Linked DNA regions of Homo sapiens. The protein of the gene in region 1 purifies or fractionates together with the protein of each later gene. This does not show direct contact. Each region holds a gene or a part of one and is shown in the gene's direction. Other genes may lie near its edges.

Region 1 (3,500 bases):
AGGCAGATCAGGAGGTCAGGAGTTTGAGACCAAACTGGGCAATATGGTGAAACCCCGTTTCTGCTAAAAATACAAAAATTAACTGGTCGTGGTGGCACGTGCCTATAATTTCAGCTATTCAGGAGGCTAAGGCAGGAGAATCGTTTGATCCTGGGACTTGGAGGTTGCATTGAGCAGAGACTGTGCCATTGCACTCCAGGCTGGGCAACAGAGTGAGACTCCACCTTTAAAAAAAAAAAAAAGAACTTTAGTAAACACAACTGGGAAGACAAAATGCGGTGAAAAATCCCTTACTCAGATTTGTTAGAACATTCACTGCATTTAAATCCATGCCTTCACCTCTCTCTTCTTCTCATTTTCTGTAAAGATAAGAACTCCTCCCATAACCATTTGGTTAAAATGTGTTTTCATTTCAGGGTCTATTGACATTCAGGGATGTGGCCATAGAATTCTCTCAGGAGGAGTGGAAATGCCTGGACCCTGCTCAGAGGACTCTATACAGGGACGTGATGCTGGAGAATTATAGGAACCTGGTCTCCCTGGGTGAGGATGACTTCCCTCCTGGGGATGTGCCCTTGCGTATCTTTGTATTTTCTCTCCTTTTTTTTTTTTTTTTTTTTTTTTTTGAGATGGAGTCTCGCTCTGTCGCCCAGGCTGGAGTGCTGTGGCATGATCTCGGCTCACGGCCAGCTCCGCCTCCCGGGTTCACGCCATTCTCCTACTTCAGCCTCCCAAGTAGCTGGGACTACAGGCACCCACCAACATGCCTGGCTAATTTTTTGTACTATTTTTTACTAGAGACGGAGTTTCACCATGTTAGCCAGGATGGCCTTGAAATCCTGACCTCGTGATCCACACACCTCGGCCTCCCAAAGTGCTGGGACTACAGGCATAAGCCACCGTGCCCGGCCTATATTTTCTCTTGTTTTTAGATAAAGTGTCTCTCTCTGTCAGCCCGGGTGGAGTACAATGGTGTGATCATGGCTCACTGCAATCTTGAATTCCTGGGCTCAAGTGATTGTCCCACCTGAGCCTCCCCTGGTAGCTGGTACAGGTGCATGCCACCATGTCGGGCAACTTTTTTAGTTTGTTTTTTTTCCAGACAGGGTCTTGCTGTGTTGTTGAAATTCATCCTGATCTCCTGGGCTCCAGAGATCCTCCTTAGTCTCCCGAGTAGCTGGGATTACAGGTGCCAAACCCCATACCTAATTATTGGCTTTTATTTTAAAAATTTTTGCATATGTGCAGCTGGGCATGGTGGCTCACACCTGTAATCCCAGCACTTCGGGAGGCTGAGGTGGGTGGATCACGAGGTCAGGAGATCAAGACCACCCTGGCCAACAGGGTGAAACCCCCTCTCTACTAAAAATACAAAAATTAGCCAGGTGTGGTGGCACGTGCCTGTAATCCAGGCTGAGACAACAAAATCACATGAACCTGGGAGTCAGAGGTTGCAGTGAGCCAAGATTGCCACTGCACTCCAGACTGGCGACAGAGCGGGACTCTGTCTCAAAAAAAAAAAGAAAAAAAAATTTCATATGTGTGTCCTTAAGGCTGAGTCTGTGAGTCTCTTGTAGACAACATGTAGTTGATTCCTGTTGATTCAGCCAGTCTTTGCCTTCTGAGTGCAGATTAAATACTTACAGTTGAAGTATTACTGATGGAGAAGACCTTACCCTTGTGATTCTGTTACATATTATCTGTATTTATTGTAGGTTTTTTTGTTCTTCATTTCTCATTTACTACTTTTGTGTTTATTTGCTTTTTTGTGTAGACATGCTTTGACTCCCTTCTTATTGACTTTTGTTTGTTTGTTTGTTTATGATGGAGTCTTACTCTGTCCCCAAGGCTACAGTTCAATGGTACGATCTTGGCTCACCGCAGCCGGCTCCGCCTTTCAGGCTCAAACAATTTTTGTGCCCCAGTGGCTCACGCCTGTAATCCCAGCACTTCGGGAGGCCGAGGCAGGCAAATCACCTGAGGTCAGGAGTTCAAAACCAGCCTGCCTAACATGGCGAAACTCCGTCTCTACTAAAACACACAAATTAGCCGGACACTGTGGTGGGCGCCTGTAATCCTGCTACTCAAGAGTCTAATGCAGGAGAGTCGCTTGAACCCTGGAGGTGGAGGTTGAAGTGAGCCGAGATTGTGCCACTGCCCTCCAGCCTGGGTGACAGCACGAGACTCTGTCTCAAAAAAAAAAAAACAACAACAACAAAATTCCATAACCTGCAAAAGCCACTCTTTCTCTACTAGAACTCTGTATTTATGTCAGAATTATTTCTCTGTATGTTGCATTCGCATTAACATATATGTAGTGTTTTTTCATGCTTTTTTCTTCTAAATAACAGAAAAAAAAGTTGAATTATCTAGAGAAGGTATACTTACACCAGTTTCTGTATGTGTCCTGTTATTTGCCTATTCATTTATTTATTTCTTTGTTGATGAGATGAAGTTTTGTTCTTGTCGCCCATGCTGGAGTGCAATGGCACAATCTCGGGTCACTCCAACCTCCAACTCCCAGGTTCAAGTGATTCTCCTGCCTCAGTGTCCTGAGTAGCTGGGATTACAGGCATGTGCCACCACACCTAGCTAATTTTGTATTTTAGTAGACACAGGCTTTCTCCTTTTTGGTCAGGCTGGTCTCGAACCCCTGCCCTAAAGTGATCCACCAACCTCGGCCTCCTAAACTACTGGGATTATAGGTGTGAACCACCGTGCCCGGCCTGTCTTTTTATTTACCTTTACTGGAGAACTTTATATATATTTGTGGGTTGGAGATACTCTTTAGAATTCTTTCATTTCTTTCTTTTTTTCTTTTTAAGACGGAGTCTCGGTCTGTCACCCAGGCTGGAGTGCGGTGGTGCGATCTTGGCTAACTGCAGCCTCTGCCTCCCAGGTTCAAGTGATTTTCCTGCTTCAGTCTCCCAAGTAGCTGGGACTACAGGCACATGCCACCACACCTGGCTAATGTGTGTGTGTGTGTGTGTTTGTGTAGAAATGGGGTTTCACCCTGTTAGCCAGTATGTTCTTCATCTCCTGACCTCGTGATCCTCCTGCCTCAGCCTCCCAAAGTGCTGGGATTACAGGCGTGAACCACCATGCCTGGCCAGCCTCAAAGTTTTTAAAACACGTAATTGCTATAGATGGCTTCAGGTATTGCAAGATTTATGGTACAGGCTCTAAACTTCCTTTGTTTAATCAGATTTGTCAGCCTTCAGTGATGTTGATGATGAGATGCTCCTGTTCCTGCCTCAGTCATTTCACTGTCAGAAATAGCTTAGACTGGCCACCCGAGGTGGCTCACACCTCTAATCCCAACAGTTTGGGATGCCAAGGTGGGCAGATCGCTTGAAGTCAGGAGTTTGAGACCAGTCTTGCCAGCATGGTGAAACCTCAAATCTACTAAATACAAGAATTTGGCCGGGCACGGTGGCTCAAGCCAGTTATCCCAGCACTTTGGGAGGCCGAGAGGGGCAGATCACCTGAGGTCAGGAGTT
Region 2 (3,500 bases), on another chromosome or scaffold:
AAGGAGTATGGGATTTCTTGTGCCGGTTCCTTCACATCCTCACTACACTTATCTGCCTTTACAGTGGCTCGATCATAGTTCACTGCATAGCCTTCTGGGCTCAAGGGGTCTTCCAGCCTCAGCCTAATATAGGCACATGCCACCATGACTGGCTAATTTTTTTTTTTTAAGTTTTTTTTTGTAGAGATAGGGCCTTGCAGTGTTGCCCAGGCTGAGGAATTTTATTTATGTTTATTTTATTTATTTATTTATTTATTTATTTATTTATTTATTTATTTATTTATTGAGATGGAGTCTTACACTGTCACCCAGGCTGGAGTGCAGTTGCGCGGTCTCAGCTACTGCAAGCTCCGCCTCCCGGGTTCATGCCATTCTCCTGCCTCAGCCTCCCGCGTAGCTGGACTACAGGCGCCCGCCACCACGCCTGGCTAATTTTTTGTGTGTGTTTTTAGTAGAGGCGGGGTTTCACCATGTTAGCCAGGATGGTCTCGATTCCTGACCTCGTGATCCACCCACATCGGCCTCCCAAAGTGCTGGGATTACAGGTGTGAGCCACCATGCCTGGTCTAGAAATTATTTTATATTTTATACCATTGCCTTATAAGTTCTCAAGCAACTGGAAAATACAATCAGAACGTATTCCTCAAGATTTCAAGGATATTTTACACAAAGTTCTATTGTCTGATTCCTTAGCAGTTGTTACTACTGTTTCCCTAACCTCTAATCTTCTATTGGGTTATTAGTCTTAGAATTGAATTTTGAGAGGTAAGGGCTTGAATTTGAACATAGAAATTTATACAGGTCTGATCAGTAGTTCTTGACATTGTATTATCTGGAAACAAATCTTTAGAACTGAGCTTAAGATGTTTAATGACATTTTGTAGACAGAGTATGATTTCAGTGTAGTTGTTTTTGTTTCTTTCTAGATCTAGTTCAGAGATGAAGTATATCAACTTTTTTTTCCTTTTTGACCCAATGCTAGCAGAAAAACAACACCTTTTAATCATATTTAGTATTTGAAAATGTGTATACAGGTTCCTTTTTATTTTATTTATTTCTTACAGGTTCCTTTTTAATCAGCTTTATTGAGATAGAGTTCATATACTGTATGGTTCATACCACATATGGTTCATATACCATACAGTATATGAACTCACTTTAAGAGTATAATTCAGTGGGTTTAAGGGTATAATTCATTCATTTTAAGGGTATAATTCAGTGGCTTTTAGTATATTTTCTTTTTTTTCTTCTTTTTTTCTTTTTTCGAGACAGGGTCTTGCTCTGTTACCCAGGCTGGAGTGCAGTGACGCAGCCTCAGCTCACTGCAACCTCCACCTCCCAGGTTCAAGCGAATTCTCTTGCCTCAGCATCCTGAGTAGCTGGAACTACAGGCTCACGCCACCACACCCAGCTAATTTTTATATTTTCAGTAGAAACAGGGTTTCACCATGTTGCCCAGGCTGGTCTCGAACTCCTGGCCTCAAGTGATCTGCCTGCCTCAGCCTCCCAAAGTGCTGGGATTACAGGCATGAGCCACCGTGCCTGCCTGTTTTGTAGTGTATTCAAACAGAGTTGTACAACTGTCACCACAATCAGTTTTAGAACCCCAAAAAGAAACCCTGTACTCTTTACCAGTCACTCCCTATCTTCCGTCCACTAACCCCTGGCATCCACTAATTTACATGACCTCTATGAATTTGCCTATTCTGAACATTTTATAAATGGAATTCTAAATACACTACCTTTTATATCTGGATGCTTTTACTAAGCATGTGTATTTTTGAAATTGACTTTAAAGCTTGTTGGCCCCTGGAAGAGTAAATTACTCTCCACCCCAAGTATTCCCTCTACCCCTCAGCTTTGCCTGTAAGTTTCTTTTTAAAAAAATCACACATACATTGTTGTAGTAGATTTAAGAATAAGTATTTTGCTGACCCAAGGTTCTTTTGCTTCTTTCTAGATCAGTGCCTTGCAGGTTTTATTTTACAGAGCTTAATAGAATCAGAAATCTCTTTAAAACTCCAGTCTCATATCCAGTTATCACTCACCATCTCTGTGTTTGCAGCAATAGCCAGGCCTGGCCCAGAGGGACTTGATCTCCACTTTTGGTTTTTAGACTTTTCTGTGGCTTTTACCACCTGCTGTGTATCCTTGACCTCATACTGCTGGACTCCTTTGGATGGATACCAGCAGGATGGTTCAGGCTCCAGTGGGCACTTTTTAAAATTCTCTCCTTCTGTTCAGATAGACAGAGCTCAGGCAGATCACCAAGTCTGTTGCCTGTGTAACCAGGAAAGAGATGCTAGTTTTCTTTTAGGCACTCCCATTTGTTTCTGTTGGAACCTTCCTCACTTAGTTGATGGAAGGGAAGCAAAAGACCCAGAACTCCATCTCAAATTAATGACTTAACAATTCTTGAATTTTCTCTTATCTCCTAGTTAACTCTTTTTCTTATCTCCAGGAGGTCAGTTTTAATTATTGTTGTTTATTCATTTATTTTCATGGAGACAGGGTCTTACTGTGTTGTCCAGGCTGGCCTTGAACCCCTGGCCTCAAGGAATCTTTTCACCTCAGCCTCCCAAAGTGCTGGAATTACAGGCATGAGTCACCACACCCAGCCTGATATTTTTCAGTTGATGTATCATAGTTGTGCCTAAGCATAATTTTTTAATTTTAATTTTTTATTTTTGGGGACAGGGTCTCCCTCTGTCGCCCAGGCTGGAGTGCAGTGATGCGATCTCAGCTCACTGCAACCTCCACCTTCTGGGTTAAAGCGATTCTCCTGCCTCAGCCTCCCGAGTAGCTGGGACTACAGGTACCCACCATCACACCCGGCTAAATTTTTTGTGTGTATTTTAGTAGAGACGAGATTTCGCTGTGTTGCCCAGGGCGGTCTCGAACTCCTGAGCTCAGGCAATCCGCCTGCCTCGGCCTCCCAAAGTGCTGGGATTACAGGCATGAACCACCACGCCCGGCCAAGCGTAATATTTTTAAGGGTCATCAATGTTGTGTCATGAATCAATCAGTGTTTCGTTCTTTTTTATGGTTGAATAATATTCCATGGTATGGATTTGTCACATTTTGTTTATCCATTCATTAGTTGATAGACATTTTGGATTTCCACTTTTTTTTTTTTTTTTTGCTATTATAAATAGTGATACTATGTACAAATTTTTGTGTGGAAATATGTCCTCATATCTCTTGGTTATATACCAAAGAGTGGAAGTGCTGGGTCATATGGTAACTACGTGTTTAACATTTTGAGAAACTGCTAAACTGTTTTCCAAAGTTGCTGTACCGTCGTACATTCCTGCCAGCAATATATGAGGATGCCAGTTCCTTCACATGTTCACTACACTTATCCACCTTTTTTATAATAACTAATGGTGGGTGTGAGATGGTATCTCATTGTAGTTTTGATTTGTATTTCTCTGATGGCTAAATGGCTAATGATGTTTGAACTTTTTGTTTGAGACAGAATCTCACTCTGTCCAGATTCA
Region 3 (3,500 bases), on another chromosome or scaffold:
AGGTCAAGAGATCGAGACCATCCTGGCCAACATGGTGAAACCCTGTCTCTACTAAAAATACAAAAATTAGCTGGGCATGGTGGCATGTACCTGTGTCCCAGCTACTTGGGAGGCTGAGGCAGGAGAATTGTTTGAACCCGGGAGGGCAGAGGTTGCAGTGAGCCGAGAGAGCGCCACTGCACTCCAGCCTGGCGACAGAGTGAGACTCCGTCTCAAAAAAAAAAAAAAAACTTGAATGTTGGCCTGAGCGCGGTGGCCCAGGCCTGTAATCCCAGCACTTTGGGAGGCCGAGGCGGGTGGATCATGGTGTCAGGAGTTCGAGAACAGCCTGACCAACATGGTGAAACCCCATCTCTACTAAAAATACAAAAATTAGCTGGGCATGGTGGTGTGTGCCTGTAATCCCAGCTACTCAGGAGGCTGAGGCAGGAGAATCGCTTGAACCCAGGAGGCGGAGGTTGCAGTGAGCCGAGATCATGCCAGTGCACTCCAGCCTGGGTGACAGAGCGAGACTCTGTCTCAAAAAAACAAAAAACAAAATAACAAAATGAGGAAGTCCAAGATTTTGGTTGTGTATGCGAGAGTCCAATAGCACATCTACAGAGCATAGTTGAAAACTGCCTTGTTCACATTCCCCTTCAATTATTTATTTTCCTGAGAAAATCAAAGAGGTCACATGCTCTTCACCTCAAACTTTCTGTTTCAGCTGGGCGCAGTAGGTAGCTCACGCCTGTAATCCCGGCATTTTGGGAGGCTGAGGTGTGTGGATCACCTGAGGTCAGGAGTTCGAGACCATCCTGACCAATATGGTGAAACCCTGTCTCTGCTAAAAATACAAAAATTAGCCAGGCATGGTGGCATGCTCCTGTAGTCCCAGCTACTCGAGAGGCTGAGACAGGAGAATCACTTGAACCCGGGAGGCAGAGGTTGCAGTGAGCAGAGATGGTGCCACTGCACTCCAGCCTGGCGACAGAGCGAGACTTCGTCTCAAAAAAAAAAAAAATTTCTGTTTCCTTATTCTTGCCTAAGGAAGATACATATGCCTTTGTCAAGAGTATTATCCGTAACACTTAAATAATTTTTTTCTAGTCACACAGCTCACAATTGATGGTACTGGATTTGAACCCATTAAGTTCAAGAACTCTATAGCCTGTTCTTTGTCACTGTACCATGCGCAGAAGACCCAGTTAAATATGATGTTAGTTCTCATACTTCTAAAACTAAGAGATTCACTCTTTCTTGGCCTTCTTTCTTCAGCTGTAGAATTCAGATATGATTTGCTTTACAGGGTGGTTATGGCATTAAATGAGATAACCTAAGGAGTAATTCAGAAATTATGAAATACTATATCTACTTGTTTGTAAGGTGTTATTTTATTGTTAAAATAGCAACTAATACACATTAACACTTACCCATGTTTTAATAAACAGTGAAACTGATGCTAGATAAATTAAGTAATTGGACTCCGTTATAGTTAATTAAGTGGTAGAATCTGGATCTGGGCGCATTTCTTTTGATGAAGGTCCCATGTGCTTATGGTCTCTGGTTGTTACCTTATGCCTCATTGATTCTGTATTTTTTCATTGTTACATCTTCTTCCTCCTGCCCCTTAAATGCATTTATTTCTTAATTTCCTAAGATCTTGTTGCTGTCGTTCTCTACTCTGAGGTTTCTGGGAGTATTCACCTACTTTGGGAAATTTGATTTACTTTAGCAGCTTTAGCTATCATCTCTGTGTGTATGGCTCCTAAATCTATTCCTTCAGCACTGACTTTTGGATGTCTTGTCCTTCTAGCATCTTGAACTTTGTTCAAGATCAGATTATTCATATTATTTTCTCAAACCGATTCTAAGTTCATTCTTTTTGTTCTGTTCTGCTAGTCACTCAAACTGGAAACTTTATACCAATGATTTTTTTATTTTTTATTTTTTATTTTTTTTTGAGATGGATTCTTGCTCTGTTGCCCAGGCTAAAGTGCAGTGGCGTGATCTTGGGTCACTACGACCTCCGCCTCCCAGGTTCAAGAGATTTTCCTGCCTCAGCCTCTCAAGTTGCTGGGAGTATCAGCGCACTCCATGATGCCCGGCTATTTTTGTATATATATATGTATATATGTGTGTGTATATATGTATATATATAAACATGTATATGTATATATGTGTGTGTGTGTGTGTGTGTGTGTGTATATATATATATATATATTTTTTTTTTTTTTTTTTTTTTTGTAGAGATGGGGTTTCACTATGTTGCCCAGGCTGGTCTCAAACTCCTGACCTCAACTGATCTTCCCTCCTTGGCCTCCCAAAGTGCTGGGATTACAGGCATGAGCCGCTGCCTCTGGCCTATACCAATGATTTTTAAGTGCAATTAGTTATTATCTCCCTGTTTCACTTATATTTGTCTTACCCTTCTGTTTTTATCATTACCATGCTAATAGAGAAGTATGAACATTGGTTACCTCATGCTTAGATTATTTAATTACTTTCTGTCTGATCTCTCAGGTTTGAGTCTTTTCTTATCTCCAGTCCATTTTCTGTCCTGCTACTATATTAATATTTTTCACTGATATCTCTTTCTTTTCCCCAGAAGCCTCAGAAATGTATTATGTAAAGGATAAAATCCAAGAATGTTAGCCTTGTGTTCAGACCATCCAGATCTGGTTCTGACCTTTCTTTCTAGGGCTGTCTTGGTTCCTGAATGCACTAATCATTTGTTCATTCATTCAGCAAATATTGATTGCTTGCCTACTTGTTTTCAAGCCAGTCATTTTTTATTAGGTATAACTGACATGCAGTAAACTACACATATTTAAAGTGTACAGTTTTTTTGTTTGTTTTGTTCTTTTTTTTTTTTTTTTGAGACGGCGTTTTGCTCTTGTTGCCCAGCCTGGAGTGCAATGACGCGATCTCCGCTCACTGCAACCTCCATCTCCTGGGTTCGAGTGATTCTCCTGCCTCAGCCTCCCAAGTAGCTGGGATTATAGGCATGCATCACCACGCTTGACTAATTTTGTATTTTTAGTAGAAACAGGGTTTCACCATGTTGGTCAGGTTGGTCTCAAACTCCTGACCTCAGGTGATCCACCCACCTCAGCCTCCCAAAGTGCTAGGATTACAGATGTGAGTCACTGAGCCTGGCCAAGTGTACAGTTTTGACATATATGTATTCTTGTGAGACAATCATTGCATCCAAGTTAGTGAATATATCTGTCATCCCCAAAAGTTTCCTTGTGCCTCTTGGTAATTCCTCCCTCTACTTGCCTTGTCCCCAGGCAACCATTGATCTGCTTTCTGTCACGATAGATAAGTTTGCTTCAGAGATAAGGGGGATGGAAAAAGAGAAAAAAGATAAGTTTGCATGTTTTGGAATTTTATACAAATGAAAATCATACAATATGTACTCTTACGGATCTGGCTTTTTTTCACTCAGCAAAAATACTGTATGTATCAGTAGTATTCCTTTTTATTGCTAAGTAGTATTCCATTGTATGTATTTACCA
Region 4 (3,500 bases), on another chromosome or scaffold:
ATGTCTGACACCAACTCTGACCCAGAAGTGGTAAATGTGGACAATTTATTGGCGGCTGCAGTAGTTCAAGAGCACAGTAATTCTGTAGGCGGCCAGGACACAGGAGCTACCTGGAGGACCAGCGGGCTTCTAGAGGAGCTGAATGCAGAGGCAGGTTGGTCTTCCCCATCCCCCTTCTCTAACGGTGTAATATGCATGTGTCCTGGAGCTGTTTTCCTTGTAGTGGACCCTGATGAGGAGAACAGGTCATACCAGAGACATCTGGCATTGAATGATTGGTTGTGACTATCCAGGCTGCCATTTATACCTGAAACAATTTGGATAGCTTGTCATTCATCTTTCCTACTCAGAAGGAAGTAGAAATAAGAGCATTTAAGACATTAATTGTAGGTATTGGTAGGTTTCAGTAGGCATATTTCTTGGATTAAAAATGCCCAATATTTGCAAAAATGACCCAGATATGCTCATATTCTTTGGCCAGTTCTTTCTCTCACTTTAATTCTGGGTAGTGACCTTGCAGCTTGGATAGGGAATCGTTGAATCTCTCCCTGTGGGGCTGGCTGTTCATACACAGCGCTGCCGCTGTTTCTTGTGCTTCTTGCTGTGGAGTGACCCTGTTAATTCCTCGTCAGTAAGTTCTCATTTGTCTTTTCTAACTCCTTTCTTTTAGTTTCTGTCTCTGTTAGCTCAGGAAAAAAAATCTCTGTCCCTGTCTTACATTTTTTTAGTTTTGTGATTATTCTTTAAGGTGGTATTTATTCACTAAAAAATCCACTGCTGTTACCTTTGAAAAACTTTCACAATACCTCCAAGTCTTCTTCAATATTTTCTTCAAAAGTTTCTTTCAGCATTCTAATTTAAACCTTGTTTTGTTGTTGTTGTGAAAATACTAGCACTGAACATTTAAGAAGAGAAGGGGATTGAGAGACTGCTTATGCAGTGTATAATTTCTTCAGTGTTGCTGAAAGATTATAGTTTTCTAGTTAATTTATAAATGCATTGGTTTTATGAGTTAATCTAATAGTTTAATCACTACCTAAAGTTATTTTTATGAAAAATGAGTTTTACAAAAAAATGAGTTATAGTTTAGAACTTTTTATATTGAGACAGAACTCCATTGATTGTTGTTGTCTTAAATTATTCCTTTCATAATCTTTGATTGGAATTACAGAAAAATCACTTGTTTGTTGACCTGATTGATTTACTGTAGCTAATTTTGGAACTGAACCTGAATTTAGTTTTGATTTTTTTTGACTGGTAACTGCTGCCTGTTTGTCCTTGGACCAGTTGTTTCTCCTCTGGACTTCAGTTTTTATATGTATAAATCCTTGTTTTGCCCAACAAGTGTCTTTTAAGGATTTATTAATATGTATTAATACAAATACTTTGAAAAGAAGTAATAATGCTTCTGGGCACAGTGGCTCACGTCTGTAAGCCCAGCACTTTGGGAGGCCGACGTGGGAGGATCACTTGAGGTCAGGAGTTCAAGACCAGCCTGATCAGCATGGTGAAACCCCGTCTCTATTAACAATACAAAAATTAGCTGGGCGTGATGGGTGTGGTGGTGGGCGTGGTGGTGGGCGCCTGTAATCTCAGCTGTGGAATTGCTTGAACCTGGGAGGCAGAGGTTGCAGTGAGCTAAGATTGTGCCACTGCACTCCAGCCTGGGTGACAAAACTAGACTGTATCCCCCCAAAAAAGAAAAAAGAAGTAATAATGCTTTATATCAGTGGAAAGTAGTTTGGCCACATTTTGTACAATATGTGTTTCTAAGTTATTTATTTATTTATTTATTTATTTGAGATGGAGTTTCGCTCTTGTTGCCCAAGCCAGAGTGCAATGGCGCGATCTCAGCTCACTGCAACCTCCGCCTCCTGGGTTCAAGCGATTCTCCTGCCTCAGGCTCCTGAGTAGCTGGGATTACAGGCGCGCACCACCACGCCTGGCTAATTTTTTGTAGAAATGGGGTTTTACCATGTTAGCCAGGCTGCTCTGGAACTCCTGACCTCAGATGATCCGCCTGCCTTGGCCTCCCAAAGTGCTGGGATTACAGGCGTGAACCACTGCACCCAGCCTTGTAATTTGTATATTAGATGGTTTATCTTTGTTTTTCATCCTTTGGCAATTAAGTCATCCATTCCACTTCAGTTTTATTTCTCTGTTTTCTGAGTCTTGCCGTTAAATATAGACCATTTTATGGTAAAGTTTTGGGGTAAAAAATGAATGATTACCAACGTTTTGCTCTTCATATGCAGAATTCTTAATATTAGATTGAACCGTATGGAATTGTTAATATTTGACTTTTTGACCTACAAAAAATCAGCCATTTCTTATGACTTGACCGAATAATGCAAAGTTTGCGGTTTTAAAATATCATTAAAGTTTAGCTTTTGGGATGGCATTCACATTTTCAGATTCAAGTAATTGTTAGCCTATTTAAAAATCACTCTTAAGAAACTACAACCATTCTTTTTAAGAAATAAAACGTGGTAAAAGTATGTGAGGAGGAAAACAACTGTGGCTTCAGATGTTTTCCTTCCCTTTGCCCTTCCCATGCCAAAGCTATCCTAAATTGGATATTTAATGTGTGGTATTCCTGTGTATTTCTTTATATATTTGTACTACATTTGTTATATATCTAAATAAGCATGTTTTTAAAACTAATTGGTATCACATTGAAGGTAATCATTTGAAATGTGCTTTTTTAGTTAAACATTTTATGAGTTTTGTTGTTGTTATGTGTGGCTCTAGTTCATTCATTTTCCACTGCTATTTAGTATTCCACTATATGAATATATCACAATTTACCCATTCTCTTGTTGGACATTTAGGGTGCTATTTTAAGTGATACTGCTCTTAACATTTCTTTATGTGTTTTTTGGTATATGTATATGATAATTTCTCTAGGATATAATTAATATATAGAGAGAGCATTTGTGCATATTGGACTATAAATTTTGTGTAGGTTTCTGTATATCATAGGATGCAGTCACCACTGCTCAGCAGATCCCCATGACATTTTGTTATGAAGCTTATTGGCTCTTTCAAAGGCATTTTTTTTTCTTAAATCTGACAATACTGGTATGTGGGTAATAAATAAAAATAATACTGTAGTCTTGATGTGATTATCATAGTGGAACTCATCTTGTGAAGATATCTGAATGTGCTTACAGTGTCTCAATAAAATATTAATAGAATTTATGCTTAGGAGCCAGTTAATAGTTTTGAGGCTTGGACTATTAGTCAGATGGTCATTCTTATGGTGTGAGTGTAAGTTAAAATTTTAATGGTTAATCTGGGTCCTGTCTTTCCCTTTCACAACAAAATAGCAAGCCTAGTTATTGAGCAGACTATTCAGGGGTTCACTTTAATCAACAGCAGCATCTCAACCCAGGTCCACAGCCCCATCCCATTTAGGATCACATAGGTACGCACTAAAGATAGAGTAGGTTGCCTTTTTCCAAGCAATTAGATGATTATCTTGCATCCAAAATATATAT

The links.
Region 2: the proteins of ZNF765 (region 1) and PPM1G purify together in Homo sapiens (co-immunoprecipitation; one large-scale study listed by IntAct). This does not show direct contact.
Region 3: the proteins of ZNF765 (region 1) and TRIM37 purify together in Homo sapiens (co-immunoprecipitation; one large-scale study listed by IntAct). This does not show direct contact.
Region 4: the proteins of ZNF765 (region 1) and ARK2N purify together in Homo sapiens (co-immunoprecipitation; one large-scale study listed by IntAct). This does not show direct contact.

What each region holds. Positions count from the first base shown.
Region 1 is NC_000019.10:53,401,649-53,405,148, forward strand, and holds part of ZNF765 (zinc finger protein 765), read left to right. Parts: intron 1-416; coding exon 417-543; intron 544-3,500. UniProt on the Homo sapiens protein: May be involved in transcriptional regulation.
Region 2 is NC_000002.12:27,399,592-27,403,091, reverse strand, and holds part of PPM1G (protein phosphatase 1G), read left to right. Parts: intron 1-3,500.
Region 3 is NC_000017.11:59,100,381-59,103,880, reverse strand, and holds part of TRIM37 (E3 ubiquitin-protein ligase TRIM37), read left to right. Parts: intron 1-3,500. UniProt on the Homo sapiens protein: E3 ubiquitin-protein ligase required to prevent centriole reduplication. Probably acts by ubiquitinating positive regulators of centriole reduplication.
Region 4 is NC_000018.10:46,240,034-46,243,533, forward strand, and holds part of ARK2N (protein ARK2N), read left to right. Parts: coding exon 1-154; intron 155-3,500. UniProt on the Homo sapiens protein: AMPK substrate important for exercise capacity and skeletal muscle function.